3 linked regions of the Homo sapiens genome follow. The protein of the gene in region 3 purifies or fractionates together with the protein of the main gene of each other region. This does not show direct contact. Each region holds a gene or a part of one and is shown on either strand. Other genes may lie near its edges.

Region 1 (3,652 bases), on a different chromosome or scaffold from region 3:
GGCTAATTTTTGTATTTTTAGTAGAGACGGGGTTTCACCGTGTTAGTCAGGCTGGTCTTGAACTCCCGACCTCAGGTGATCTGCCCACCTTGGCCTCCCAAAGTGCTGGGATTAGAGGCGTGAGCCACCGTGCCTGGCCAAAAAATGTTTCCTAAATAAAGTTTTATCAGAAGTTCCAACAGTGACTGTATGGCCTGCAAACCTAAAATATTCGCTATCCGATCCTTTAAGGAAATGTTTGCCAGCCCCTGCTGTAATGAGGAAAGGATACAGACAGGAGTCAGGCAGACCTGATTGTGTCAGGGACTTCCTGTATGCCTTTGGGCAGGTTGCTTCACCTCTCTGAGCTTCAGCCTCCACATTCCTGAAGTTGTAAATGTGCTGACCTAATAGCACTGTTATGGGGTCATGGGAACTATTGTAGGTGGGTGTTTTTTTTGTTTTTTTGTTTTTTTCTCGAGACAGAGTCTTGCTCTGTCACTCAGGCTGGAGTGCAATGGTGCGATCTCGGCTCACTGCAACCCCCACCTCATGGGTTCGAATGATTATCCTGCCTCAGCCTCCCAAGTAGCTGGGATTATAGGCACCTGCAACCATACCCAGCTACTTTTTGTATTTTTATTAGAGACGGGGTTTCACCATTTTGGCCAGGCTGGTCTTGAACTCCTGACCTTGTGATCCGCCTGCCTCGGCCTCCAAAAGTTCTGGGATTACAGGTGTGAACCACTGTGCCCAGCAGGTGGGTGCTCATTTAATTAGAGGAATCATTTCTCATAAGCATCAACTTTTGAGTATGTTATATAAAGAAATATAAACAAATAAGAGCTGTTACCTCTCAGTCTAGATTCCTTTCTTTTAGATACTTATGTAACTTCTTTGTTTTCTTTTCTTTTTTTTTTTTTTTTACTTTTTAGTTTTTTGTAGAGATGAGATCTTGCTTATGTTGCCCAGGTTGGTCTTGAACTCCTCAGCTATAGCAGTCCTCCCACCTCAGCTTCCCAAAGTGTTGGGATTATAGGTGTAAGCCACCACACCTGGCCACTTATTTATTTTTCTTTTTTCTTTTTTTTTTTTTTTGAGATGGAGTCTCACTCTGTCACCCAGGCTGGAGTGCAGTGGCACAATCTCGGCTCACTGCAAGCTCCACCTCCTGGGTGCACGCCATTCTCCTGCCTCAGCCTCCTGAGTAGCTGGGACTACAGGCGCCTGCCACCATGCCTGGCTAATTTTTTTTTGTATTTTTTAGTAGAGACGGGGTTTCACCGTGTTAGCCAGGATGGTCTTGATCTCCTGACCTCCTGATCCGCCCGCCTCGGCCTCCCAAATTGCTGGGATTACAGGTGTGAGCCACCACGCCTGGCCTTTTTTTCTTGTCTAATTGCATAGGCTAGAATCTCTAAAACAGTGGTGCTCAACTTGCCTGGCTGTTCAATCTTGCCTTTCTTCCTGGATAAAGGAGAGAATGAGGCCACTTGGTAGTGGTCAAGCCCTGGGGACCAAGCCTTCCATGGAGGGGTTCTTGGTAAGTTTTAGGTTGTATTACCTGCCCTTTAAGCAGGAGTGAATTACAGTAACCCATGCCTTTGTAAATGCCTAGAATTTACAGGATTCCGATGAGCGCTTCCTGAATGCACAGTGTTCTCCAGGGCAGTTGATTTTTTAACTTAGTCTAAGGCAGTGGTTCTCAGCTGGGGGTAATTCTGCCCACCAGGGCACGCTTGGCAACTACTGAAGACATTTTTGACTGTCATGATCAACACTAGATTGTGTAGTTGCATCCAGTGGGCAGAAGCCAGGGATGCTACTAAACATCCTATAGCCCCTCACAGAAAAAAAATAACCTGGCCAAACACGATAGTGCTGGGATTGAACAACACTGCTTTTTTTTTTTTTTTTTTTTTTTTGGGCAGAGTCTCACTCTGTTGCTCAGGCTGGAGTGCAGTGGTGTGATCTTGGCTCACTGCAACCTCTGCCTCCCAGGTTCAAGTGATTCTCCTGCCTCACACCCCCGAGTAGCTGGGATTACAGGCACACACCATCATGCCTGGTTAATTTTTTGTACTTTTAGTAGAGATGGGGTTTCACCATGTTGGCCAAACTGGTGTTGAACTCCTGACCTCAAGTGATCTGCCTGCTTTGGCTTCCTAAAGTGCTAGGATTACAGGCGTAAGCCACTGCACCTGGCCTGAGCAACACTGCTTTAGAACAATGTGAAACAATATCAGTGATGACGGAAATCCCTGTCTGATTACATATGCTAATGGGAGTTTTCAGCCTGGTATAGCGGCTCATGCCTGTTACCCCACCACATCGGGAGGCCAAGGAGGGAGGATGGCTTGAGCCCAGGAGTTCAAGACCAGCCTGGGCAACATAATGAGACCCCCCCCCCATTCTCTATATAATTTTTTTTTGAACTTGAAAATTGGCCTGGTGCGTTGGCTCACGCCTGTAATCCCAGCGCTTTGGGAGGCCGAGGAGGGCGAATCACGAGGTCAGGAGATCGAGACCATCCTGGCTAACACGGTGAAACCCCGTCTGTACTAAAAAGACAAAAAATTAGCCAGGCATGGTAGCGGGTGCCTGTAGTCCCAGCTACTAGGGAGGCTGAGGCAGGAGAATGGCATGAACCTGGGAGGTGGAGCTTGCAGTGAGCCAGGATCACGCCACTGCACTCCAGCCTGGGGGACAGAGTGAGACTCCATCTCAAAAAAAAAAAAAAAAAAAAAAATTAAGGCTGAGCACAATGACTCACACCTGTAGTCCTAGCACTTTGGGAGGCTGAGGTGCAAGGATCACTTGAGCCCAGTAGTTAAAGAACATCTTGGGCAACATAGTGAGATGCCATCTCTATTTAAAAGAAAAAAAAATTTTAAAAATGTAAAAATTAAATTGAAAAATGGGATTTTTTTCAAGGAGAAAAATTAGGATTTTTGTTTGCTTTGTTTTGTTTTAGGAGATAAGGTTTTGCCATGTTGTCCAAACTCATCTCCAATGATCCATCCACAAAGTGCTGGGATTACAAATGTGCACCACCGCGCGTGGTGGCCCCTTTTTTTTTTTTCATGACGGAGTCTCCTTCTGTCGCCCAGGCTGGAGTGCAGTGGCACAATATGATCTTGGCTCACTGCAAGCTCCGTCTCCCGTGCTCATGCCATTCTCCTGCCTCAGCCTCCCGAGTAGCTGGGACTATAGGTGCCCACCACCACACCCAGCTAATTTTTTGTATTTTTAGTAGAGACAGGGTTTCACCGTGTTAGCCAGGATGGTCTCAATCTTCTGACCTCGTGATCCGCCCGCCTCAGCCTCCCAAAGTGCTGGGATTACAGGCGTGAGCCACCGCGCCCGGATTTTTTTTTCTTTTTTAAAGAGCGACAGGTTCTTGCCATGCTGCCCAGGCTGGAGTGCAGTGGTGTGATCACAGTTCACTGCAGCCTCGACCTCCCAGACTCAAGCAATCTCCTGCCTCAGCCCTTAAGTAGGTGGAACTATATGCGTGCACCTCCTCACCTAGCTAATGTTTGTACTTTTTGTAGAGCTAGGGGGTTCTCCCTATGTTGCCCAGGCTGGTCTCAAACTCCTTGCCTCAAGATATCCTCCCGCCTTGGCCCCCGAAAGCACTGGGATTACAGGTGTCAGTGGCATCTCAGAGTCT
Region 2 (3,652 bases), 2.1 Mb from region 3:
AGATTCTTCTTTAGTCTGGACCCCCAGAATGAACACGTGAGGAACAGACCTGAGCCCAGCCCAGAGCAAGGAAGACCCCAGCTGAGCCAGACCGGCGGCCTGAGCAGAGCTGCCCAACCAAGTCCAGTTTAGATAAGCCACTTGCCGTCAACCCAAAGACCATGAGCCTGGGAGTAAATGTTTGTTTGCCACTGAGATTTTGTGGCACACGGCAAAATAGTTATGCAGCAAAAGCCCACTGGGCCAGCTGTATCTCTCATTGTGTCTCCACAGCTCTGTTTCTGTCTGCATCTGCTCTACAATAAACAAGATACATCAGAGGCTTGAGGGGAGGAGAGGCTTGAAGGCAGACTGAGGACATGGAATTAGTGGACCTGAGTAAGAGAATGGCAGTGAGGACAGACAGAGGTAGGAGGTGGAATTTACAAGACTTGATGTCTGATGGGAGAATGGCAGTGAGGATAGACAGAGGTAGGAGGTGGAATTTACAAGACTTGATGTCTGATGGGAGAATGGCAGTGAGGATAGACAGAGGTAGGAGGTGGAATTTACAAGACTTGATGTCTGATGGGAGAATGGCAGTGAGGATAGACAGAGGTAGGAGGTGGAATTTACAAGACTTGATGTCTGATGGGAGAATGGCAGTGAGGACAGACAGAGGTAGGAGGTGGAATTTACAAGACTTGATGTCTGATGGGAGAATGGCAGTGAGGACAGACAGAGGTAGGAGGTGGAATTTACAAGACTTGATGTCTGATGGGAGAATGGCAGTGAGGATAGACAGAGGTAGGAGGTGGAATTTACAAGACTTGATGTCTGATGGGAGAATGGCAGTGAGGACAGACAGAGGTAGGAGGTGGAATTTACAAGACTTGATGTCTGATGGGAGAATGGCAGTGAGGATAGACAGAGGTAGGAGGTGGAATTTACAAGACTTGATGTCTGATGGGAGAATGGCAGTGAGGATAGACAGAGGTAGGAGGTGGAATTTACAAGACTTGATGTCTGATGGGAGAATGGCAGTGAGGATAGACAGAGGTAGGAGGTGGAATTTACAAGACTTGATGTCTGATGGGAGAATGGCAGTGAGGATAGACAGAGGTAGGAGTTGGAATTTACAAAACTTGATGTCTGATGGGAGAATGGCAGTGAGTACAGACAGAGGTAGGAGGTGGAATTTACAAGACTTGATGTCTGATGGGAGAATGGCAGTGAGGACAGACAGAGGTAGGAGGTGGAATTTACAAGACTTGATGTCTGATGGGAGAATGGCAGTGAGGATAGACAGAGGTAGGAGGTGGAATTTACAAGACTTGATGTCTGATGGGAGAATGGCAGTGAGGATAGACAGAGGTAGGAGGTGGAATTTACAAGACTTGATGTCTGATGGGAGAATGGCAGTGAGGATAGACAGAGGTAGGAGGTGGAATTTACAAGACTTGATGTCTGATGGGCTATAGGGGACGTGAGAGAGGGAAAAATCAAGGATGACACCCAGGTTTCCATTCTTTAAACTAGAAACACAGAGGAGAAGCGGAGTAGATTTAAAAAAAATACGAAGCTCCTCTTTTCATGCGCGTCCGTGTGAAGAGACCACCAAACAGGCTTTGTGTGAGCAATAAAGCTTTTAATCACCTGAGTGCAGGTGGACTGAGTCCGAAAAGAGAGTCAGCGAAGGGAGATAAGGGTGGGTCCGTTTTATAGGATTTGGGTAGATAAAGGAAAATTACAGTCAAAGGGGGGTTGTTCTCTGGCAGTCAGAGTGGGGGTCACAAGGTGCGCAGTAGAGGAGCTTTTGAGCCAGGATGAGCCAGGAGAAGGAATTTCACAAGACAATGTCATCAGTTAAGGCAGGAACCGGCCATTTTCACTTCTTTTGTGGTGGAATGTCATCAGTTAAGGCAGGAACCGGCCATCTGGATGTGTATGTGCAGGTCACAGGGGACATGATGGCTTAGCTTCGGCTCAGAGGCCTGACATTCCTGTCTTCTTATATTAATAAGAAAAATAAAATGAAATAGTGGTAAAGTGTTGGGACGGTGAAAATTTTTGGGGGTGGTGTGGAGAGATAATGGGCGATGTTTCTCAGGGCTGCTTTGATTAGGGGCAGCGTGGGAACCTCGAGTGGGAGAGATTAAGCTGAACGAAGATTTTGTGGTAAGGGGTGATATTGTGGGGTTGTTAGAAGAAACATTTGTCGTGTAGAATTATTGGTGATGGCCTGGATATGGCTTTGTATGAATTGAAAAACTAAATGGAATAAGAGAAGGAGAAAAACAGGTATAAAAGGTCTAAGAATTGGGAGGACCTAGGACATCTGATTAGAGAGTGCCTAAGGAGATTCAACATAGTCCTGCCAGCAAAGATTATTTATTTACTTCAAGAGTTTAGAGTGGCAGTTTGGGGATAGCACCAGGAGATATCAGCTGTGATGGCTTGGAGAAACAGTGTAAACCGGCAGTGTAAACAAGAGCAGGACATGTATGAGTAGTTGAGAATGGTGAATAGGAGTATGACTAGACAGAAGATAGTAGGGATGACAAGTTCTTTTGGGGCACAGTCTAAGTTGGTCTGGTGTCTGGAATTAGACTGGGGCCTAATAAAAAGGAGCGTCTATACAGGAGCTCAAATGGGCTGTATCTTGTAGCATTCTGAGGACACGTCTGACTTCTGAGAAGGGAAAGTGGTAGAAGTATTATCCAGTCCTTTTTAAGTTGGTGGCTGAGCTTGATGAGGTGTGTTTTTAAAAGACCTTTAGTCCGTTCTACTTTTCCTGAAGACAGAGGACCGTAAGGGATATAAAGGTTTCACTGAATACTAAGAGCCTGAAAAACTGCTTGGCTGATTTGACTAGTAAAGGCTGGTCTGTTTTCAGACTGTATAGAGGTGGGAAGGCTAAACTGAGGAATTATGTCTGACAGAAGGGAAGAAATGACTGCGGTGGCCTTCTCAGACCTTGTAGGAAAGGCCTGTACCTATCCAGTGAAAGTGTCTACCTAGACTAAGAGGTATTTTAGTTATCTGACTCAGGGCATGTTGAGTAAAGCTAATTTGCCCGTCCTGGGTGGGGGCAAATCCTCGAGCTTGATGTGTAGGGAAGGGAGGGGGCCTGAATGATCCCTGAGGAGTAGCAGAATAGCAGATGGAACACTGAGAAGTTATTTCCTTGAGGATAGATTTCCACGATGGAAAGGAAATGAGAGGTTCTAAGAGGCGGGCTGGTGGCTTGTTCTATAGCATAGCCTGCCTTTGCTGGTGTGTGGCGATTAAGCCTGGTGGAGCTGCCATCAATAAATCAAGCGTGATCAGGGTGAGGAACAGGAAAGAAGGAAATATGGGGAAATGGGGTGAATGTCAGGTGGATCAGAGACATACAGTCATGGGGGTCAGGTGTGGTATCAGGAATAATGTGGGAGGCCGGATTGAAGTCCGGGCCAGGAACAATGGTAATTGTGGGACTTAACATAGAGTGAGTACAGCTGAAGGAGCTGGGGGATCAGAAAGTATATGCATCAGGTATGAGGAAGAAAATAGATTTTAGAAGTTATGAGAAATGTGAAGAGTGAGCTAAGCATAGTTTGTGATTTTTAGGGCCTCTAAAACTATTAAAGCAGCGGCAGCCGCTGCACGCAGACATGAGGGCTAGGCTAAA
Region 3 (4,430 bases):
CTAGATTAACTGAGGGGGGAAAAAAGAGAAAACTCAAATAAATAAAATGAAAATGAAAAAGGAGACATTACAACTGATACAACAGACATACAAAGGTTCATAAGAGACTACTATGAACAATTATACACCAATAAATTGAATAATGTAGAAAAAATGGATTATTTGACTCAGTAACATACCAAGACTGAAAGATGAAACAGAAAAGAAAGCCCAGAAAAAAGCCCATATATCTACAGCCAAAAAATTTTCAGCAAAGGTGCCAAGAACACACAATCAGGAAAGACAGTGTCTTCAATAAATGGTGTTGGGAAAACTGAATATCCACACTCAGAAGAAAAAAATTAGACCCTTATCTCATACCACATACAAAAATCAACTTAAAATAGATTAAAGACTTAAATGCCTGATGCTTATCTTAGTAACACTGAGATAGGATGTTACTTTCTTTGAAGAAGACTGTGGTTTCCAGAGTCCAGAATGAGCTATTGCCGTTAAACACCCTGATTTAGATACAGGATGTTTAACTTGCTTAATCAAGGCTATTAGTGATTAACTCAGAATGAAACATAGGTTTCCTTAGATCAGACTTTCACATATGCTCCATTAAAGCAAATCCCTTATAAACAGAATTAATGCAGAAGTTGTGGACTAACATGTAGTAGTTCAGTGATTTATTTTCTCATTTGTTTGATTTTGTATTTGTTTTCCTATTTCTTTGTTTTCCCTGTAGCAAGATGAGGCTTCATGTTTCTAGCATGTGACCTCTAATGCTCCTGCTTCTTAAAATTTCTTCCTTGTCCAGCATTGCAGTCATTGTGAAGGTAAATAGTAAGAAAGTTGTGTGGGATGATTTATATTTTTTTCTTTCAAAGGAGAAGGTAATTTGGTTACAAATACTATGCGGACTCACCCTGAGCCTACCCGACTTCTTTATTCTTGCTTGTGGTTCTGGGGAATTAAAAAAGGCAACAGAATGTAGGCACGCATTTGAGGTATAATAATAACAAAACATACCACATCAAGATATGCTGCAGCTTACGACCTTGTGTCAATCACAATTGCTTGTCCATCCTTGATGACAATGAGTTCCATTACCTGATGTAGATGTCCACGCCTCCAGTATCTGGTGAAGGGTGGAGTGATTGATCCTATCACTGTTGCATCCTGTGCGGCCTCCTCATCCCACGCTGGGCAGCCATTTGACACAAAATACATGTAGCATCCATGGTTGCCTCTGGCTGTTTACAACAGAAAACAGGCTCCTTTGAATTACCACTTTATCCTAACCTCCAGAAAATGTGGATGAATCAGGAACTGCTTAGAAGTTAGGAAAGCCAAGGAGACTTACTTTTTCACTTCCTTTTAACTTCCACGCTATACTTCTCTAGTGATGGCTTGGAACAGTATTTTTTCAAGGAATTCAGGAACCAGTACACAGAATAAAATCCTATCAGGCATCTGAACGACCTATCCTTGATTCTCTGGAGAGGAATGTCAGGATAAAGCTGGATCCAGAAAAGAGACTTCTAGATTCTCTTATGCTATTTTATCTTTTCTGTTGTTGCTCTAAAATGTTTTCCCAGAAATGTCAAATCAACCTTTTAATGACACAAAATGCTGTAATTGAATCTGAATGTCTCAAGTGTATGGACTCCAAATTAAACTGAACATATTTCATTTGTAAAATTAAAAAATATATATATATTATCGACTGTATCTGTGCCAGGCAATGTATCCTTTGGCACTTAGCAGAAGGACTTTCTCCATCTCTACTCTGGTGTTTTTAGGTTTACCTTGCACATAAATAGCAGATTTGCATATCAACTCCAATATTTATCCACACGACTAGACAAAAAAAAGTAATAGTAGTACTATTTGATTGTCTATATTTACCTGTTTAATATATTTGCTTAATATTTGAATTAACTGGTGAATTTAATCACACTCTTATAATGCATCTGCTAATTAAATAGTATCTAATCACTATCTAATCAAGACTCTTTGTTCAATAGCTTGCCAAAGATACAGAATTTTGTGCTGTCTACACTAAATACTGGTGAGGCACAACCCCATCTCTCTTAAACCAAACCAGAATTATTATTTGAAATTCACCTTTCTTCCTCCTTGCTACCTTCACATTTTCTCCATTTTTATGATGATGATAACTTGGGCACCAGTGCTCAAACAATTTATATTTATCCTGTCTCCTTACTGACCTGTGAGCTCTTTTAGTCTATGGGCCAAATCTGCCACCTATTTTATCCCATGAAAAAGGACAGTACCCAGCTTAAAAAAAGAATACTCAACAAATTGGAGTTGTATTGACTGACTCCAAGTTGTATGACCCAACTTAAGAAAAGGGAGGGACTGGGAAAGGATGGGCTAGTGACTTGAAGGGAAAAGTTTGTAGCTATTTGTTTTTTCCTGATTTAAGAGACAGTAAAGTTCTTACTGTCCACTTCTCTGACCCTGGCATTACAGCACATATTAAAAAAAAGAAGAAGAATAAATATAACGAGAGGAGTTCCTTAAATTCTAAAGGAGATTTTGAGGGCATCTAACCTGTACCTTGTCCACCAAGAACACATATCCCTTACAAGTACTATCTCTGCTTTGAATGTGGAATGAACATACTCTTCCTAATTTTCTCAGACTAAGAAATCACCAACAACATTTTCTGCAAGTCAGTGTCTTTGATCCTTATGATGACACAAACTGGCTAGAACAAGACAAGGCTTTGTCACACAATAATGTCTGGAAGGCAGAAATCTCTTACCCACAATATAGCTCCTGAGGAGAAGTGATGTGAAAGGTGTTCATGCCAGGGAGAGGGCCCAGGAATGCATGTGATGGCAGGACCCTGGCTTCAGCTTATAGAGTTTGGATCAGAAGTGCTTAGTCCAGCCGAGTTCCCACAGGAAACAGGCATAATCTCATATGCTCGAGAGTCTCAGTGTGAAACTGGGCTTCGGAGACCCCAGAGACCACAGAGCCCTAAGGGAAAGATTCCTATATGTGAGGGAAAAAACTTCTGTGACTATAGCTGGGCTCCAAAAAAGAGCAGTCAGGAAAGCAAATCCCATGCCACAGCTATCCCACCATTAGGACTAGAAGTTGGCAATTCGTGTCTAAGGCAATTAAAAATAAATAAAAGATGTATATGAGTGTGATATCATAAGTGTGTTGTTATTTATTATTGTTAATTCTAAAATAGTAAATGCTTATTAGTCGAAAAAGAAAAAAGTAACAATAAAGGCACTTCTGAATAGTACATACTTCAGATACTCAGAAACACTTGCTATTAGGATTTTGTGTGTTTTTATTTCCAGGTATGTGTAAATTTTTTTTGAAAATCACAGTTTTCAGAATATTCATAGTTTAGAGGATATTTTATCACGGTTTTTTCCATTATGTCATGAATATTTCACTCTTTCACTCCTCTGCAATATGTCAAAGTCAGCAAAGCTACTTTATGGCTATAAACTTTCCTTTACGTATTTTTAAAATTTAAAACATTGAGTTAATTTCCAATATGTTACAACTTGATGGTGAACATCAACACAATCATGATTAATTCCATTGGAAAATTTATAGACCTGAATAGATATTGAGTAAAAAATATGCTAATTTTAAAGCTTTTATGTTGCTAGACTTTTATCCCCCCAGAAAGATTGCACCAAAACTCTACTGTATGCTCTTGAACACAATCCAAGTATATATGCCACCTTATTCAGTAAGGTTCTCTATGAGTAACTGGTCTCCCCCAGCTATAGGTGCCAGATAATGGAAAGTAAAATAGAACAGGCCATAAGTAGATGTAAGTGGGACCAACCTTACCCATAGTCAGAATTGAGGGTCATTGTTACGTTGGATTTCTTGGTGTGCTGAAATTACGATTTAACTTCCCGATAAACTACCTTTCTGAGCGTGAAGATTTTCTACTTAACATTCAGTAATTTCAGGGCCAGCTGTGGTGGCTCACACCTGTAACCCCAGCACTTTGGGAGGCGGAGGCGGGCAGATGGCTTGAGGTCAGGAATTCAGGACCAGCCTGGCCAACATGGTGAAACCTCAGATCTACTAAAAATACAAAATTAGCAGGGCGTGGTGGCAGGCACCTGTAATCCCAGCTACTCGGAAGGCTGAGGCAGGAGAATTGCTTGAACCTGGGAGGCAGAGGTTGCAGTGAGCCAAGACTGCACCATTGCACTCTAGCCTGGGCGACAAGCAAGGCTCCGTCTCCAGAAAAAAAAAAAAAAAATTCAGTAATTTTGATAAGCATTGTAGTTTCTCAGCCTCCACTTTTTAAATATGAACAAACAAGTTATCAGTAACCTAGTTTATTCAAATCATTTTCTTTAATTATTCATTCAAGAAAATAACTATCAAGAAAATTAAAAGAAAGATGCAGTTATGAGCTAAAATAAAGC

What was found.
Region 1: the proteins of OR52N5 (region 3) and ABHD8 purify together in Homo sapiens (affinity purification with mass spectrometry; one large-scale study listed by BioGRID and IntAct). This does not show direct contact.
Region 2: the proteins of OR52N5 (region 3) and ART1 purify together in Homo sapiens (affinity purification with mass spectrometry; one large-scale study listed by BioGRID and IntAct). This does not show direct contact.

Annotation. Positions count from the first base shown.
Region 1 is NC_000019.10:17,296,856-17,300,507, forward strand, and holds part of ABHD8 (protein ABHD8), read right to left. Parts: intron 1,523-3,652; exon of another isoform or gene 1,457-1,522; intron 1-1,456. UniProt on the Homo sapiens protein: Negatively regulates NLRP3-driven inflammation. Promotes NLRP3 degradation through the chaperone-mediated autophagy (CMA) pathway, hence attenuating inflammasome activation and IL1B secretion.
Region 2 is NC_000011.10:3,651,555-3,655,206, reverse strand, and holds part of ART1 (GPI-linked NAD(P)(+)--arginine ADP-ribosyltransferase 1 precursor), read right to left. Parts: intron 1-3,652. UniProt on the Homo sapiens protein: Has ADP-ribosyltransferase activity toward GLP1R.
Region 3 is NC_000011.10:5,780,519-5,784,948, forward strand, and holds the start of OR52N5 (olfactory receptor 52N5), read right to left. Parts: upstream 2,838-4,430; 5' UTR 2,777-2,837; intron 1,239-2,776; 5' UTR 1,015-1,238; intron 1-1,014. UniProt on the Homo sapiens protein: Odorant receptor.